Linked DNA regions of Homo sapiens: regions 1, 2 and 4 are each reported to be linked to region 3. Evidence: microRNA targets listed by miRTarBase, many of them from high-throughput screens and not tested one by one. Region 3 holds a microRNA gene; each other region holds the end of a gene's coding sequence.
What was found. The annotated mature microRNA hsa-miR-4519 reads CAGCAGUGCGCAGGGCUG and lies in region 3 at 1,240-1,257, shown strand. An mRNA with a match to its seed (bases 2 to 7 or 8) in the 3' UTR can be bound and repressed. Matches are read on the target gene's strand: a 7mer-m8 pairs with bases 2 to 8, a 7mer-A1 pairs with bases 2 to 7 and ends in A, and an 8mer does both.

Region 1: miRTarBase lists LDOC1 as a target of hsa-miR-4519. Seed matches in the 3' UTR shown: 7mer-m8 at 3,567-3,573 and 7mer-A1 at 2,140-2,146.
Region 2: the mRNA of FEM1A is a reported target of hsa-miR-4519. The part of its 3' UTR that is shown has no 7-base or 8-base seed match.
Region 4: miRTarBase lists ZC3H14 as a target of hsa-miR-4519. Seed matches in the 3' UTR shown: 7mer-m8 at 559-565, 7mer-A1 at 1,508-1,514 and 7mer-A1 at 3,715-3,721.

The regions. Positions count from the first base shown.
Region 1 is chrX:141,172,929-141,176,994 of GRCh38, forward strand. LDOC1 (LDOC1 regulator of NFKB signaling) reads right to left here. Exons shown (of 1, transcript NM_012317.4): 1 at 307-4,066. The coding sequence ends at 3,653. Among named protein-coding and RNA genes, the nearest start is that of LDOC1, 2.2 kb to the right of the region's middle. RefSeq lists an enhancer at 3,266-3,765.
Region 2 is chr19:4,793,625-4,797,690 of GRCh38, reverse strand. FEM1A (fem-1 homolog A) reads right to left here. Exons shown (of 1, transcript NM_018708.3): 1 at 1-4,066. The coding sequence ends at 3,827. Among named protein-coding and RNA genes, the nearest start is that of FEM1A, 3.9 kb to the right of the region's middle.
Region 3 is chr16:30,872,491-30,876,557 of GRCh38, reverse strand. It overlaps MIR4519 (microRNA 4519), which reads left to right and starts at 1,235; the gene lies at 1,235-1,292. It overlaps MIR762HG (MIR762 host gene), which reads right to left and starts at 1,098. Exons shown (of 3, transcript NR_110942.1): 1 at 1,072-1,098; 2 at 440-528. It also overlaps a transcript of BCL7C not described here. RefSeq lists a silencer at 326-385 and enhancers at 706-755, 786-995, 305-1,059, 1,266-1,525, 1,060-1,814 and 1 more.
Region 4 is chr14:88,611,467-88,615,532 of GRCh38, forward strand. It overlaps ZC3H14 (zinc finger CCCH-type containing 14), which reads left to right. Exons shown (of 17, transcript NM_024824.5): 17 at 279-4,066. The coding sequence ends at 285. EML5 (EMAP like 5) reads right to left here. Exons shown (of 44, transcript NM_183387.3): 44 at 965-4,066. Among named protein-coding and RNA genes, the nearest start is that of ZC3H14, 50 kb to the left of the region's middle.

The DNA.
Region 1 (4,066 bases), not on the chromosome of region 3:
ACAACAACAACAAAAACACAACAACAAAAAAAACAAAACAAACAAAACAAAATAAAACAAAAAAACAAGAAAAAAATTTAAGCGCATTTTTATGCAAATATCCCACTAACTTCAACAAGACTTCTCCCTCTAATCTGCCTACTTCCAAATTACTGAGGTTTTAGCCATGCTTTAATAGCAGAAAATAATCAAATATACATGTGCATAAAGTACCTCTAGCTTTATATACCATTCTGCAGGATACAGCAACACGGACTTAATAGATGGCAGTGCTTATCTATTCAAATGAATAGAAGAGTCCAAAGATATATTGGTATATTTAATACGATTAAATGATTACGACATTTAATATGACTAATTTCATTTCATTGATAGTATAATTTCAGCGGCCATTTCAAGTCTATTACGCCCAAAATGAGAATTCAGGGTCTAAGTTCATATTTATTCAGCATTCCTACCTATTTTTAATAGTTTTGATCAAAGTGGCACTTTTATCCTTAGACATACTTCTACTTCTTCCTTCTTTTTTGCCATGCTTTATGCCATTATCATGAATTCCTCCCTGGGTGGTGGAGCCCTTGCCAGTATCTGCGCTTTTATTGCAGAATCTGCCCCCAAAGTAACCAGAATCCCTTTTCTGCATCTCACAGCATAACCTGTTTGTCCATGATGTAAGAAGGACATCACTTAACACACACACACACAGAGCACACACATACTGGGTCACAGCAAGCTCATGTGCACATGCACACATACTCAGGAAATGTACACTTCAGATCACAGAAGCTCCCTGGCCTAGTTCTCCCAGATGCCATTCAGATGCTGCCTTGGCATGGCATCCTTACTGAACCTCCCTTCCTCCACAGAACACCTACTCATATGTCCTCAACTTCCACCCCAGAAAGGTCATTCCCAGATCTAATCACAGCCCAGATTCTCTTCCTGGCCCTTTCCTGTAACTAATCATCAAAGTTCTGACCCAGGGCACAGTAAAAGCAGCAGACTGGACTCGCTATGAAGGCAGAGATCACATTTTATTCAAAGATGTTTCTGTAACTCCACTCAGCATAACTGGGCCATAATCAGTTTGGAATAAATGACTTTTGGTCTCACTGGATCCTTTACCTTTTAGATCTTGCTCACTTTTCCACATTTATCCCCAATTCAAGGCCTTTCTAGTTAGGAAGAAAGTGTAATTATCTGGCCTCACACATATTATGTCTCAAATATAATCTCTCTCTTCCAAGGGGTTTTGTATATTTTCCAAGGAGACTGGGAGAAGTGATCAATGAATTCTAAATAACCAGCTGTCTCCTTGATTCAGATTTGGAGGCGGCAGCTCCCTGAAGAGCCCCAGATCTCATTTCCACCCAAGCCTCAGCCTCTTTTATTAAGTCATACGCAACCCTGTCCCCACCCTCCAGAAACAGCTATCCTAGGGGTGAGATATAACTCCTACCCTGAACTTTGCCTGTCCACCACGTAAAACAGCTTTGTTTCTTGCTTCATATAAGACTCCAAAAAGTAAATGGGGTCTTATCATGCTCTCATTTCCATTCTCCCTGAACCTGCTCTGCTCCTCTTCACGCTGACATTTTCCTACTAAAGCCAGGCTCAGAGTCAGAGACTTGCTTTCTGAGACTTCTGTTCCCTGGCCCAGGAGTAACAGCCCATGGTTTGCTGAGTGCTCACCATGTAGCAGGGAAAGTTCTAAATGCTTCATGGGTATGATCTCATTTAATCCGCACCTATGAGGTGATTAATATGAAGACCCATATCTCATTTAATCAACACTGAGGTTTACCAGTACAAATACAATATCTTGCCTCAAAAGGCCTTAAACAGTACGGAAATGTGTTATCTAAATTAATTAAAGGTTATAAAGTCAAGTTGGCTCCAGACATGGTACAATGAGGACATCTGGACAGATATAAAAGAGAACTCTGAACCCCTCATATCCTCCTAAACCTTTCTAAGAGGCAGTCCTCTCAAATCCCCAACCAAGCTGCTCTGCATTAAACATTTCAATGACTTAACCTGGAGCAATGGCCTCACACAGGTATGCAGCTTCTTCTCAGCAGCCACCCCCTTCACTGCTCTGAACCCTCCAGGCCCAGAGATCTCAGCATAGCCCCTAGATAGCAGTACAAGGTCTGATTTAAGAGATAACCAAGCATCTTGCTAATTTCCATAGGGAGGAATCTGGGACACATCTATGAGTGGGAATTCTAAGGATGTCTGTCCAAGGAGAACGAAATGTTTGTTAAGATCAGGCTATATCTTTATGGGTGCACTTGCCCAGGATCCGGGACTTAATGTTAGCTGGAGCACCTGAAAGTGACATGTTGGCTATTTGGAGTTTGAAAGTGACAATCTACTATGTTGGCTCTCTGGAGTCTGAACTCAACAGCTGCACATAGGCAATAAGGATTAAGGGGCAGAACTTCCCTGGCACAGTGTTAAGGAATCCAAAAGCTCAGAGAATTAGGAGCATTACATATATATGTCCAGGTTTACGCCTATTGTTATGGTCTAATTATTAATACTGCTCTCTTTGCCGTCTGCTCAGCCAACCCTTAACCACGCCACCCTGGAGGACCCAGAGAACACACCCTTTGCCAGGGCTTTAAGAAATGCGTTGGTGAAGGGAGCATCAGAACCCTGACAAAGCCCTGAGGTAGCTGTCCCCAGCAGCCTGGAGATGACAGCGGGGAATACTAGGATTGGTTGTATTCCCTGATTTCCACGGGAATAATGGTAGTCAGAGTGACAGTGGTAGAGGCCAGTGATAGCACTTAACCATTAAAAGACAATCATTTCTTTTTTTAGTGCTTGATATTTATTGAAAATAATGCCAATGCTTTTTCCAGGTAGTATTGAGGAGCTGGGCTGAGTGCTTGTTTGTTTTGTTTTTAAGTACTATTTGTCCAAATGCACACATCTGTGGGACTGCTGCAATTTTGAAAGAAAAATGACAGCTGTGTAAAACCAGTGCATAGGAAAAAAGAAGTGTCAACAATTTGGCTGCCAGGCACACCGCGCCCCTGCAGCAATCTGGTGGGGCAGGGGAGGACACTCGGAGTAGGTAGAAAACTAACCAGGCTGAACGGCCCCTTCAGGGGTTGGTGAGCTGTCCAAATCAATGTCTGAAAAGGCATAGCCAACTCTGGCATTTTCCAGGTTGGTCCTGATCTCGAAAGGTGGTAGTCTGTAGGTGGGATGTGGTGAGTGGATGTGAAGTGGCAGCATAGTTCTCTGGGAAGATGTAAGCCTGGCAGCAGGGCAGGTGGCAGCAGCAGGGCTACGGGTGGTCTGCGCAGTTTGTAACAGGGGCCTGGCCAATAGCTGGGGTTCAGGACACAGTTCAGATTAGCAGGGGAGGGATCCCGGGGATGGCCAGGGTAGATGACACTTCCAAGCACTTCCGAGTGAGTGAGGCTCCAGCCCCGACCCCAGCAGCAGGTAACTGGAGCGCTATTCCTGGAACAAAGACAAGCACTACGGAGAAATGAAGAGAGAGAGCAGACGGGCGCGGGTAGGTAAGGGGACCGGAGGGCAAGGGGGAGAGCAGTGGCTCCTGGCGGGGTGAGGGCTGCGGGGAGGGGGTGGCGGCGTGCAGGGCCCTCCCCCCCGAGGCCCGAGGGTCGAGGGCCTAATAATCATCCTCCTCTTCTTCGTCGTCGTCGTCTTCGTCGTCATCCCAGCCAAAGCACTGTTTCATCTCATCGAGGAAGGCCCGGTAATCACCTAGGATGGGGCTATCCATCTCGATGTAGGGCACCACCCACTCCTCGGCTTCCCCGGTGAGGAGGCTGATTAGGAATGCCACCTTCATGGCGTCGTTGCAGAATCGGTTCTCGTTCACGAGCATGTAAGACGCCGTCTGCACGATAAACTCGGGGAGCCGGGAGCTCTCGCCATTAAACGTTTCGGGGAAGGGCACCGGGCAGCTCGGCGGACGTACCTGGCGCAGCAGGCTGGCCCTCTCGCACACCAGCAGCCGCAGCTGTTCCATGAGCTGGCTGTTCTCGATGCTCAGGGCGCGGTGCCGCATCAGGAGCGCGTG
Region 2 (4,066 bases), not on the chromosome of region 3:
AGGTGCTGGGATTACAGGTGTGAGCCACCGTGCCCGGCCAGGACTTACTTTAGATAGGTCCTACTTTGGCTTTTGACTGGGAGAAAGATGCTCTCTTTTCTGCTGGCGGTCATCTTGGGACACCCACCCCACCCCAGTCTCAAGGGAGCTATCAACCAGGTCTTTAGGAATAATTGGGATCTGCTGGATCAGCCCTCACCTGAAACTGGTTGAGCTTTAAGATGGCCTTCATCTGGTCGGGTGCGGTGGCTCATGCCTGTAATCCCAGCACTTTGGGAGGCCGAGGTGGGCGGATCATGAGGTCAGGAGATCAAGACTATCCTAACACGGTGAAACCCCATCTCTACTAAAAATACAAAAAATTAGCCGGGCATGGTGGCAGGTGCCTGTAGTCCCAGCTACTCGGGAGGCTGAGGCAGGAGAATGGTGTGAACCCGGGAGGCTGAGCTTGCAGTGAGCCGAGATCACACCACTGCACTCCAGCCTGAGCGACAGAGACTCCGTCTCAAAAAAAAAAAAAAAAAAAAAAAAAGATGACCTTCATCTTAAGAGGGCCGTTTTTCCTACTTCATTATTTTTCTTCCATCCATGGGACTCTGATATGTTTTTCCTCCTTTAGAGGGCTGTTGTGTAAACAGGCAGTGCATTTAACCACAGAAAATGGTGCCTGGCATACAGTAGGTGCTCAATAAATGCTCACTAGTACTGTGTCTCCCAGGAGACAGCTTTGAGAGCACCTGCTGATTCAAACCCACTCCTTTGATGCAACACCAAACAGGCATACAACAGCCCAACAGCTGTCACCTGTGGGACTGTCCAGTCCCAAATGAAACAAGACAGCAGGTGTGTGAAGGCAAGAGATGGGAGACACCCACCCTCGGGAGAAGAGCCCTCCAACCCAATGCACCATGGAAGCAGCATGCGGTGCCCCACAGCAGGGCCTCTCCCCACTGCCACGTGAGGCGGGCGCACAGGGATTAACCGGACGTTCATATCGACAGCTCAATCCTTATCCCCAAGGGGGCCTGAAACCTGCCTGGCACATGGCAGGGGCTCAGCAAAATCCCATGGACCCAGCTAACGGGGTGGTGCTTTCTGGTGGGGGTTTGACTGTTCTGATATGGAGAAAACCAGAATTTTAGAATGGAACAAGTTTACACAAGGAGGTGAGATGAGATGGCAGATAAAGGAAAACAAAAAAGGGCCAGGCGTGGTGGCTCACACCTATAATCCCAGCACTTTAGGAGGCCGAGGCGAGTGGATCACAAGGTCAGGAGTTTGAGACCAGCATGGCCAATATGGTGAAACCCCGTCTCTGCTAAAAATACACAATTAGCCAGGCATGGTGGTGTATGCCTGTAGTCCCAGATGCTCAGGAGGCTGAGGCAGGAGAATCACTTGAACCCGGGAGGCAGCGGTTGCAGTGAGCCGAGATGGCGTCACTGCACTCCAGCCTGGGTGACAGAGCAAGACTCCATCTCAAAAAAAAAAAAAAAAAAAATGTAGAGACAGAGGTCTTACTATGTTGCCCAGGCTTCCCAAGGTGCTGAGATTACAGATGTGAGCCACCGTACCCAGCCTATTTTTTATTTTTGTAAAGACAGGCTCTCACTATGTTGCCCAGGCTTTTTTTCAAAGAGCAACATACTGTTTTTCAAATGAAATTTTACACAAAGCCCCAGTATGTAACATAGAGGCCAGGTGCAGTGGTTCATGCTTGTAATTCCAGCACTTTGGGAGGCTGAGGTGGGAGGATCGCTTGAGTTCAGGAGTTTGAGACCAGCCTGGCCAACATGGCAAAACCTGCCTCTACAGAAAATACAAAAATTAGCTGGGCATAGTGGCAGGTGCCTGTAATCTCAGCTACTCAGGAGGCTGAAGCAGAATTGTTTGAACCCAGGAGGCAGAGGTTGCAGTGAGCTGAGATCGCGCCATTGCACTCCAGCCTGGGGGACAGGGTGAGACTCTGTCTCAAAAAAAAAAAAAAAGCCCCAGTATGTAACACAGAAACCCCTCTGGCTAGGGGAGGTGGCCCTAGGGCTCTCTGTTCACTCACACCAATGCCATGGACTGACTCACCCACCTCCGACTTCCCCAGTTAACCCACGCCAAGGACGCATCAGGCAGGCCATTCTCTTTGAGTATCTTTTTAATGACTTAAACACCAGCACGGAGACTCGCCATGTAAACGGCCTCATTTCTGTGCTCTGTGCTTTGGGAGGGACAGGGACACCATTTCCCACCTCGGCTGAGTTAAAACCTGTCTTGTAAATTAATAAATAATTTCCTAACACGGCAAAAAAAAAAAAAAATCCAAACGAGACCTAGTTTCCATCCAGGGACAGGATATTTCTGGACACCCCCGGTCACTGCTCCTCCTAAGGGCCTGGCCGTGGCTACTGCAGGGAGGATGCAGTGAGAATGGCTTCCCTGCTGCTGTTTGCTGCTGTCTACGCTGGCCAAGAACCTGCTCCCGTCTGCCTGGGCTGATGGAGTCTCGCTCTTGACAAAAATCTTGCTGGGGCAGGTCCTCTGGCAGCCCCAGCACCTTACCCTGAGTCACGGGAACCTGAGACTTTGTCCAAACCTCGGCTGGAAGGCTGGTCTTGGCACTCGACGTCTTAGCTAGTGGATTTATCGCATTAAGACTGTACTTGGGCCTTTTTCATGATGACTTGGGTCTCAATCCTTGGAGCAGCTGAAAGAACAGCTCGGGCCACCTGTGGATGCACCCACAATGAAATCAGAGGCCACTGCAAGGCAGAGTGGCCTGCAGTTTTAACTCGGGCACTATGGCAATGCAGACCCAAACCAATTGTGCCAGTTCTTTGCTGGGTGGCAAAGTGTTTTCAGGCTTTGTGGTCACTCCTGATTTCTGTTTGGAAGCACAGTTCTCTCTCTAAGGAGAATGGAAACTTGGAAAGGCCTGTAAAATCGGAAAGCCTGTAAAAGGCCGTAGAGTGGAGATGTATAAAAATGTACGGTCACCCATGTTTTAGGGGTTGACACCGTGGACTTTTATCTCGCTCACCAAATTCCTCACACATACAGCTCACTCCCTGTGCCCTCGGCCATCTCAGGCACCACAAAATCCTCACTGCTTGAAATTCACTTATGGAGTCCAACAAACAACTTTCTTAAAAAAAAAAAAAAAGGCAGTAAAATCTCAGAATTTCTGTGCAACGCTTGCAACCTGCCCACTTATTAAATAAACAGAACACCAAACCAACCGAAAGCTATGCAAGTGGCAGGCTGCCCTGGGCAGAGCCCTGCCTGTCTGCCAGGGACTACGGTGGCACGGGAGCAGGGCGCGATCATGCTGGAAGAAATGAGAGGTGGTCTCATTCCCTGAATCTCAAACTCTCATCTCAGGAGCCCCCAGTCCTAACACTGTATTCAGCGGCTGGAGTTATCTGGCCAGGTAAAGGGACGAGGGAAGGCAGACAGTCCTCAACTTCTTCCTGTGTTTCTAGCAGGGAAGGAACGCAATGGCTTCAGTCCCTCCGCCTCTAGGTAACAAGGCAAAGGCCTCCCTAACCCAGGCAGACAGGATGTGGGGAAGGTCTTGTGTCTTTTCCTAACTCAGAATGAGTGAGCGGGCTCCCGGAGAAAGACTGTCCTCTTAGCACATGACCCCGCAGGCTTCTAGCACCAAAGGCTCGCTAACACCTCCGACCCTGTCTGCAGGTAGAGGGGATGGGAGGCAGAACCCTTCTCCTGATTGGTGCCTGAAGGAGGCAAGAACGAGCATCTGCTATGCCGCAGCCGGATTTCCCCCATCTCAGCAGGAGAGGGGAGAGGTGAGGGTGCAGGCGTTCTGGGCAGGTCAGTGCAGTTCGATGAACGCCTCCAGATCTTCCGGGATGAAGCCCTTGTAAGGGATCTTGTTCTTATCCAGGGCCCGGGCCGCAAGGCACTGCAGGGTCACGTAGTTGAAGGGCTGCATGGTACCCCTGGCCAGCAGCTTCTCGTCCAGCAGCTCGTAGGCCGTCTTCTTGAAGGCATTGGTGGCGTCCATGTGGGCCCCTGCTTCGATCAGGGCATTCATGATGGCCGGGCAGTTGTT
Region 3 (4,067 bases):
CTGTCTCATAATCTCTGTCTTCCTAGGGCCTAGTGTGGTGCCTGGCATACAGTAGGTGCTCATTAATGATAAATGAATGAAAGCAAGCACATCTCCCTTTCTCTACTGGCAAAATCCTAATCCTTTTCTGGTTACATTTCTCCTGTAGCATCCAATTCTGTTCTCGAGACCCAAAAGATCCCTGAGGTCCTGTGATCAATGGAGTTTTAGCTCAGGTCCATTTCACAGTGGGCCCAGGGGATCCCCAGATTCATCCGTGGTTATTTCCCCAGGCACAGAGTGAGTGCACTGGTGGCACAGGCATACCCAGCAAGTGGCATAATCCCCCCCATTAGTTAACTGGGTGTCGCTGTGCATGGCTGTGAAGGCAGGGATGCACCTGGCTGGTGACCCCAGAACCCCTCCGGGTACGGCACAAGGGCAGAGCCCAAGAACTTACTTTCTGTCCTCTTGCATTTGCCTGTGGATTTGCAGTTGGTAATGGCGTTCTTGCCCGGCCCTCCTTTGTTCCTCCAGGCAGCCAGGCAGCTGTGGCGTAGTGAAAGGGCAGGATGCGGGATAGGAATGGAGTTATTCCTGATTCAGACTGATTTGCTCTAACTGTGATTTGGGGCAAGTCCCTTCCCCTGTCTAGACCTTAGCTGGCTGCCGCATCTAAAAAATGGAGCCAATAATCTTTTCCTCGTCTTTGGGGTCATCCATCTTTCAACCACATCAGGAGCAGCGGGAACCAAGTGCAGAGGATGGCCTTAAAAGCAGTATGGGAACCAAATTTTTGTAAAGTAAATATTTTCAACCTTTATATTTTGGAATCACCAGCGGTATTTATTACGTGCACTCTAGGAAATGGAGGCAATGCAATGCCAAAAACAGAAAGTAAAACTGCTGTCCTGTGCCGCGGCCCGGTGGAGGTTTTAATGTCTGTATCTTAAGATCTGGTGAGGGCACGGGTAGGTGCGGCTGGACTGAGTGAAACCAGCCCCGCTGGGCGCCTGGGCCCTTGTCTCAGGGCTGTGCTCGCAGTGGAGGCATCTGCAGCTCGGCACCCAGAGGCCCCGCGACCCTTCCAACCTTTGTGACGCTCCGCGGAGACAAAGGCCGGCGGCGCAGCCTTGGGAAGGGTTAAGGCCACAGACGCAGCCCTGCGCGTGCTAGAGCGGCCGGTGGCGGACTTCCGGTTGGGGCGCGGGCGCGCGCCGCGTGTTCCCGACCCGCCGAGGCTGAGACCTCGGGCAACCTCAGCAGTGCGCAGGGCTGCACTGTCTCCGTCTGCGGCCTGCAGTAAGCGGGTAGGGGATATGTCGCGTGGCCTCGCCTGGTCTGCGGCGGGAAACTCGCATCTAGGCCAGACCCTCCCGCAGGGTCCGCACTCGCGATCTGGGCTGTGGGCAGCATCGTGGCCCCTCGGGGCGTTATAGGGGCGTGAGGATCCCGGGCGAGCTGGGGGCGGGCGGCTTCTTCAGCTCCCTTGCGCCATGGAACCCACTGTATGCCCGTTATGCAGTCAGGAAAGATGAGGCCGGGAAGGAGGGCGTTACGCTGCAACCCCGGAGACCAGCTGTCCCTCGCGTTGCCGCAGTCGGCAGAGGCGTGGCCGGAGCCATTCCCGGTCTCCAGTGCGGCTGCAAGAGCGGGCGCCCGAGGGCGTTCTGCTCCGGGCCTCCACCCGCGAGCTGACCGTGTCAGGCGCGCCACACACGGCGCTTCTCATTCTCTCTCCACCTCGCGAGGCAGAAGCTGCCGTTCCCGTGTCACAGACAGAAAAACAGTCTGGGGTGATTTATCCGGAGTCAAGACTCAGGTCTGTGGCTCAGTCGGGAAGGATAGAAACCCAAGCTTCCTCCGAATGGTTCAGAGACCCGACCAAGTTAAATAATAATGGCCCTGGCTCAGGGGTCTTTAAGTCTTCCCCCCGCCCTCCCCTTTTGTTTTTGTTTTGTTTTGAGACCGCCTCACTGTCCCCCAGGCTGGAGTGCAGCGGTGCGATCTCCGCTCACTGCAGCTTCGACCTCCCGAGGGCTCAGGTGATCCTCCCACCTCAACCTCAGGAGTGTCTGGGACTACAAACACGCGCCACCACGCCCGGCTAATTTTTCTGTTTTTTGTAGAGTCAGGATCTCGCTATGTTGTCCAGGCTGGTCTGGAACTCCTGGGCTCAAGCGATCCTCCTGCCTCGGCCTCTGAAAGTGCTGGGATTACAGGCATGAGCCACCGCACCTGGCTACCCTTTAATTAACTCAAGGAGTTTAATAATTGAATTTAGGCTGGGCTCAGTGGCTCACGCCTGTAATCCTAGCACTTTAAGAGGCCACGTCGGGCAGATCACTTGAGGTCAGGAGTTCAAGACCAGTCTGGCCAACATGGTGAAACCCTGTCTCTACTAAAAATACAAAAATTAGACGGATGTGGTGCCACACACCTGTAATCCCAGCTACTCGGGAGGCTGAGGCAGGAGAATCCCTTGAACCCGGGAGGCAGAGGTTGCAGTGAGCCAAGATCGCACCACTGCACTCTAGCCTGGGCCACAGAGCAAGAATCTGTCTCAAAAAAAAAAAAAAAGGTTTGACACCTATACCTTCCTCTGTGTGTGTGTGTGTGTGTGTATACATATATCTATATATATATGTATATAGAGAGAGGAGGAAAAATTATATAATTTTTCTATATGTGTGTGTGTGTATATATATCTGTACAATTTTTTTTTTTTTTGAGACAGTGTAGCTCTGTGGCCCAGGATGGAGTGCAGGGACTCGATCTCGGCTCACTGCAACCTCCGCCTCCCAGGTTCAAGCGATTCTCCTGCCTCAGCCTCCCGAGTAGCTGGGATTACAGGCTGCTGCTACCATGCCTGGGTAATTTTTGTATTTTTAGTAGAGACAGGGTTTTGCTATGTTGCCCAGGCTGGTCTGGAACTCCTGAGCTCAAAAGTGATCTGCCTGCCCCAGCCTCCCCAAATGCTGGGATTACAGGTCTGAGCCATCACACCCGGCCCATATATACGTATTTTAAAATAACACCTTTACTGAGAGAGATGACTCACACACCATACAACTCACCCATTTAAAGTGTACAGTTCAATGATTCTTAGTATCTTCACAGTTTTGCAAATATCACCACAGTCAATTTTAGAACATTTTCATTACCCCTAAAAGAAACCATACCCATTAACAGTAACTCCCAAGCCTTCCTCCCACTACAGCTCTAGACTACTGCAAATCTACTTTCTGTCTCTATAGAGTTGATTATTTTGGACATTTCATATTAGGGCTTTATGTGGCCTTTTTTGACTGAGATAACCTTTTTGTTGTTGTTTTTAACAAAATCAACTCCTTGAGCTCAGAGCCCTGGCCTATAATCATAGCCAGCTAGAACTGAACAGCATTGTTTTGGTTTTATTGTATCTATTTTTACCACTCTTGGGTACATGATAATTTCTCATTTATGGCAGTGGTTAAAGTTTCCTTTTGAATACACCTAGTTCCATCAAAACGTGAGTTGATAATTTTTAAAGAACAAGATTAAGTAAACAGAAGTAGAGGTGGTCCACAAATTTGTCAGAGGTTGGGAAGATGGGATGTGAATGAAGTTTGGCAAACACTGGATTGTCTGATTTACGGTTCTCCAGGTCATCATTTGAAAACCACCCTCACCTTATTCTTTCATTGCATTTTCCTGACAACTCCTGTAAAGAAGTGCATGATTTTACCGATGAAGAAACAGGTTCAGAGAAGTCAGGTACAATTACTTGTCCAGTGTCACACAGCTAGTGACAGAAGCTAGGCTTAACCAAGTCTGTCTGATTGCCAAAACTACCTACTTACCAAGTCTGGAAGTAGGATAGGGGGTGGGGAATGGACTAGCAGGCTTGAGAGGGGACTCTGGCCACTACCCAAAACATGCGGGCACCAGGCTGCCTGAGTTGTTTTGGGTACCTCTTCTAACAAATATTCAAATATTTCTATGAAACAATTTATGACTCTAAACAGAAATCCCATCTCATTTGCCACTGGGGCTTTCACCCTCTCTCAACGGCACACCGCAGTTCAGGAAGTGCTGCCTGCCTGGAG
Region 4 (4,066 bases), not on the chromosome of region 3:
ACTTGAATTTCACATCCATTTTCTTCGACATTAGCAACTGGGAGATACTGAAAGGAAGTTTCAAAATATTTTAGTGTGGCCAGAAAATTTAATTACATATGGTATTATCTTTTATCTACCTGACATAATTGAATTATTTTTAAAAATCTGCCATTTATATTGTAATCTTATGACCAAATATTTATTGCTTAAAACTAGTCAACTTTTTAAACTGAGATATATGGTATATATGGATACAAAGCAGATAATTAAAACAATTTTTGGTTCTGTTCATTCAGCGAATAGCACCCAGTCCTGCCTGGCAGAAGATCATGCAGTTTGGAAGTTTTCATGTACTGATGAAAGATACTCTACAGAACTTGTCAAATCTTTGAAACTTGGAATATATTGCTTTCATAATATGAAGTTTTATTGCCTATCTATCTGAAGTGTCTAATTTTTCAAGTTTGTAAGTTTATTATGTGGTTTTAACATTGGGTGTTTTTGTTTTGTTTTTACTATGAAAAGACAGCTTAAGGAAGAGCTAAATTCTGTTAAAATATTTGGGGCATGTTTGTGCACTGCTGTTGTGAGGATCAGCATATGAAATTGACATCATGGTTAGTCATGGTACTGCAGCTTAGGGGGCTACACGGTTGCTGTGTGAGTGGAGAGATGCAGTGAGGCAGTTGTCATTATTCTAAAAATTGTACTACTTTCACTTTTCCCAAAGATTATATAATGTTCATAATCCACCATGAAAACAGCATTGGCCAAAGGTACTGAGGCTGCTTAAAATATTCAATTCTGCTTTTTAATTTTTAAGTGAATTTAGTTTGAAAAGCATGATTATACAGGCCTCTCAGGCTGAGTGCTACTTTGGTAAAGTTCCCAGTTTTCCTGCCTTCTGTGACAGGATGAATGAGGTGGGTATGGACAGTGGAGGCAGCTGGAATGGCAAGTGCAGAAAATAGGAACAGTTCTATACAGTGCTCTCATTTACTAATAACATAATGCCTTCTAAATAATTTTTTTGGGAAACTACATTATCACAAAATTATACAAATTTTTTTACAAGTATTTACATACTGTATCTGAAAACAGACTTTAAAGTCACAAGATTATAAATGTACATATATATTCTCACATTCTGAAAAATAACATTCTCAGAATCCACAGAAAATATACTTAGTTACTACTGAAGATAATTTTTGAAATGTAAAAATTAGATTTAAATAGTATATTTTAAATGACAGAACTATAATTACAGAGATCAGATCAGATAGGTAAACTGCAAGATAGATAGGATGAAACTTTTGGCCTACTGTATTACTTACAGAGTTTTTTTGTGTGTGGTTTTTAAAACTGTTAAGGCAAGAAGTGTCAAATGCTTTAGAGTTAAATAACAGATCACTGATTTCAAAGACTTGGTGTATAGTGTTAAAAATTAAAGCTTAAAAGGTGGTTAGAAAAGTGGATTAATGCAAAAGGGGTAATAAAGACTGCAACATTCTCAGGACCAAATTAAACTGCTAAAAAAAAAAAAAAAGTTCATTGACTTGCTTAGTCGTATACTCAAATGATGATAAACCTACATGTGCAAAGGCTCACGTTTAAGATTGTCAAGCCAGCAGTCTACTGTTGTGTTGCCATTGCTTTTCCATTGGGAGAAGAAAGAATTAACCAGTCATTAAACCATTTGGTAAGTTGCACTTTGCTGTGCTGATCCCACAGGAAAGGCTTGAAACACGAGAAGCAGCAAAGACAGAGCACACAAGTGCATAAGGCTGTTGTCTTCGGCTTGGGTGAAATGACAGTTCCTCTTCATTCTAAAGGTTTACTCCATTGAATTTAAGGCATTTGTTCATTCCAGTGTTGAGATGCTTTGCATCTCTGCAGAAGAAATTTATTTTAAATTGTTTAAATATCTGGAAATACTTTTAGCTATCATTTATAAAGATAGTTTTGTTCTCAGTTTCACTATAAATTATAGAACAAATGGGAAACAAGGGTTTAATTTAGTTCAGCCATTTTACAAGGAAATAATAAAATACTAAAATCTGATTGTTTTTTGCTATTTAATAGCCACTGCCCAGACACATATTTAAGAGTTTAATCTTTCAGTTGCTATGGCTTATGAACAAGCTAAGGTTGACCATAAAACATTTGTTGGATGACGTGGTTTAAAATGATCACCACAAAAAGGGACCACAAAAAAAGGAAGGAAATGAGCATGGTTGGCGATTGGAAGCAAGGGTACCAGAGGGCACAGTGTGCTTTGGCATGCATTTTATACATAAAATGAATGGAACAAAAGGTGCCAGAAGTCCCAGGTTACACAATCAGGAGCTTAGATACTGCACACAAAAATAATTATCTGGGTTAAAAAAGTAAACATAGGGCAGATTCTATATGGCCTATCATGTTTCTTCACCTTCCCCTCGTTGCTGGCTGATACAGCGAGGTGGTCAGCTGATGACTACTTAGTCAATATGACCTTTAGTCGTGAAACTGACAGCAGCAGTGATTAAGGCTGACTTAATCAGGTTGGCCACTTTGAAGGACAGAAATGCAGTGGAAACAGTTTTATTCTATGTAGTTTACATGCTTAAGGTTACAGAGTTTCTACCTGCACTGTAATGGAAATATAATTTCTCTGTAGCCAAAAGCTGGCAAACTTGACCCAGAGGGAAAATTTAAAACTGCAGCAGGCTCAAATGTAGAGTATTTTTCTTTTTATGGGCAGGTTGTTCAGGGATTTTTTTCCTCCTTTAATTTATTGACTGACTGTAAATACATGAGTAGAAACTTAATAGTCATGTATTTCAAAATTTGGCTTAATTTAGGAGAATCCACTGATGAACAAGTACCAACTTACGTTTCAAGCTTCTTAGCCCCATAATCAGTCCTTCAGCCACAGCTATTTAGAGCTTTAAAACTACCAGGTTCAATCACTGGTTATGCTTTCTGTGATGTAATTTAGTCATTTCTATTTTTAGTATTAACCAAGTATTAGACACAGAAAATAGGTATTAAGAATCTTCATATATCCTGTCAGACCAAATGGGATTCCAGGAACCTAAAGCGATCTATTATGCTATAAAGATAATTAACACATTAAAAACTCATAGGGTCAATACAGCATCTTAAACCTCACACTTAGAAAAATATATTTTTAAATAGCAGTCTACATAATTTTCAATCTTCAGGAAACTACAGATAGGCTAGACAGCGAATTCCTGAATGATGAGTAGTGATCTTTGGCAGCATTTAAAGTGAAAAGAAATAAGGATCTAAGAATTCAGCCCTAATCCACTAAAAAAAGGAATTCTAACTGACAAGTTTTTACAAATGGAGTTGGGCTCATTCATTTTGGAAATAAACCTATGGAGTGGCACACATCTAAACAAATTTTCCCAATAGAAAAAAGGCTATAAAAATTTTATTCCAAGAGTGATTAAATTGTATAATGTTGTATATGTGAATTTAACACTTTTGTTTACATGTTAAACAAATGTGTATATATTAGACTACATTAAATATGCAATTCTTTCTTCCAGTTAAATACTGTTGCTCCCTAAAACCCTTACATTGTACACCATTGGGAATGATTGTTCATCATACTACTTTTCCATTAGTGAGGCTACAGTTATGTTTTAAATGTGCGATTACAGAGATGGCATCTGAACATAAACTGATGGCTCGAAAATGAAAATGGAAATGTAGCAGCCATATACTGCTAACTTTGGATCTGTTCCTGAATTCAAAACTACTAGGAGAAAAGTGTCCTTTATAAAAAAGGACCTTATTAATGCCTAAAAAACATCATATTCTCTAGGAAAGCTTGTGTCTGTTTCCTTAGGGAAAATGTTTGCCTTTTAAAAACTGTGATCCTTTAGGATGATCATGACTTTCCCTTTCCTTATGGAAATGCAAGAATAAAATATTTCATTAAACAATGAACCTTGAAAATAAAATATAAACATTAAGAAACCATTTTGCTAAAAAGATAATGAAAATTATCCAAATTGGGTTTTTGAGTTCTTCTGTAAAGAGTGCTCTACCCTAAATTTTCCCAGCAGGTCTG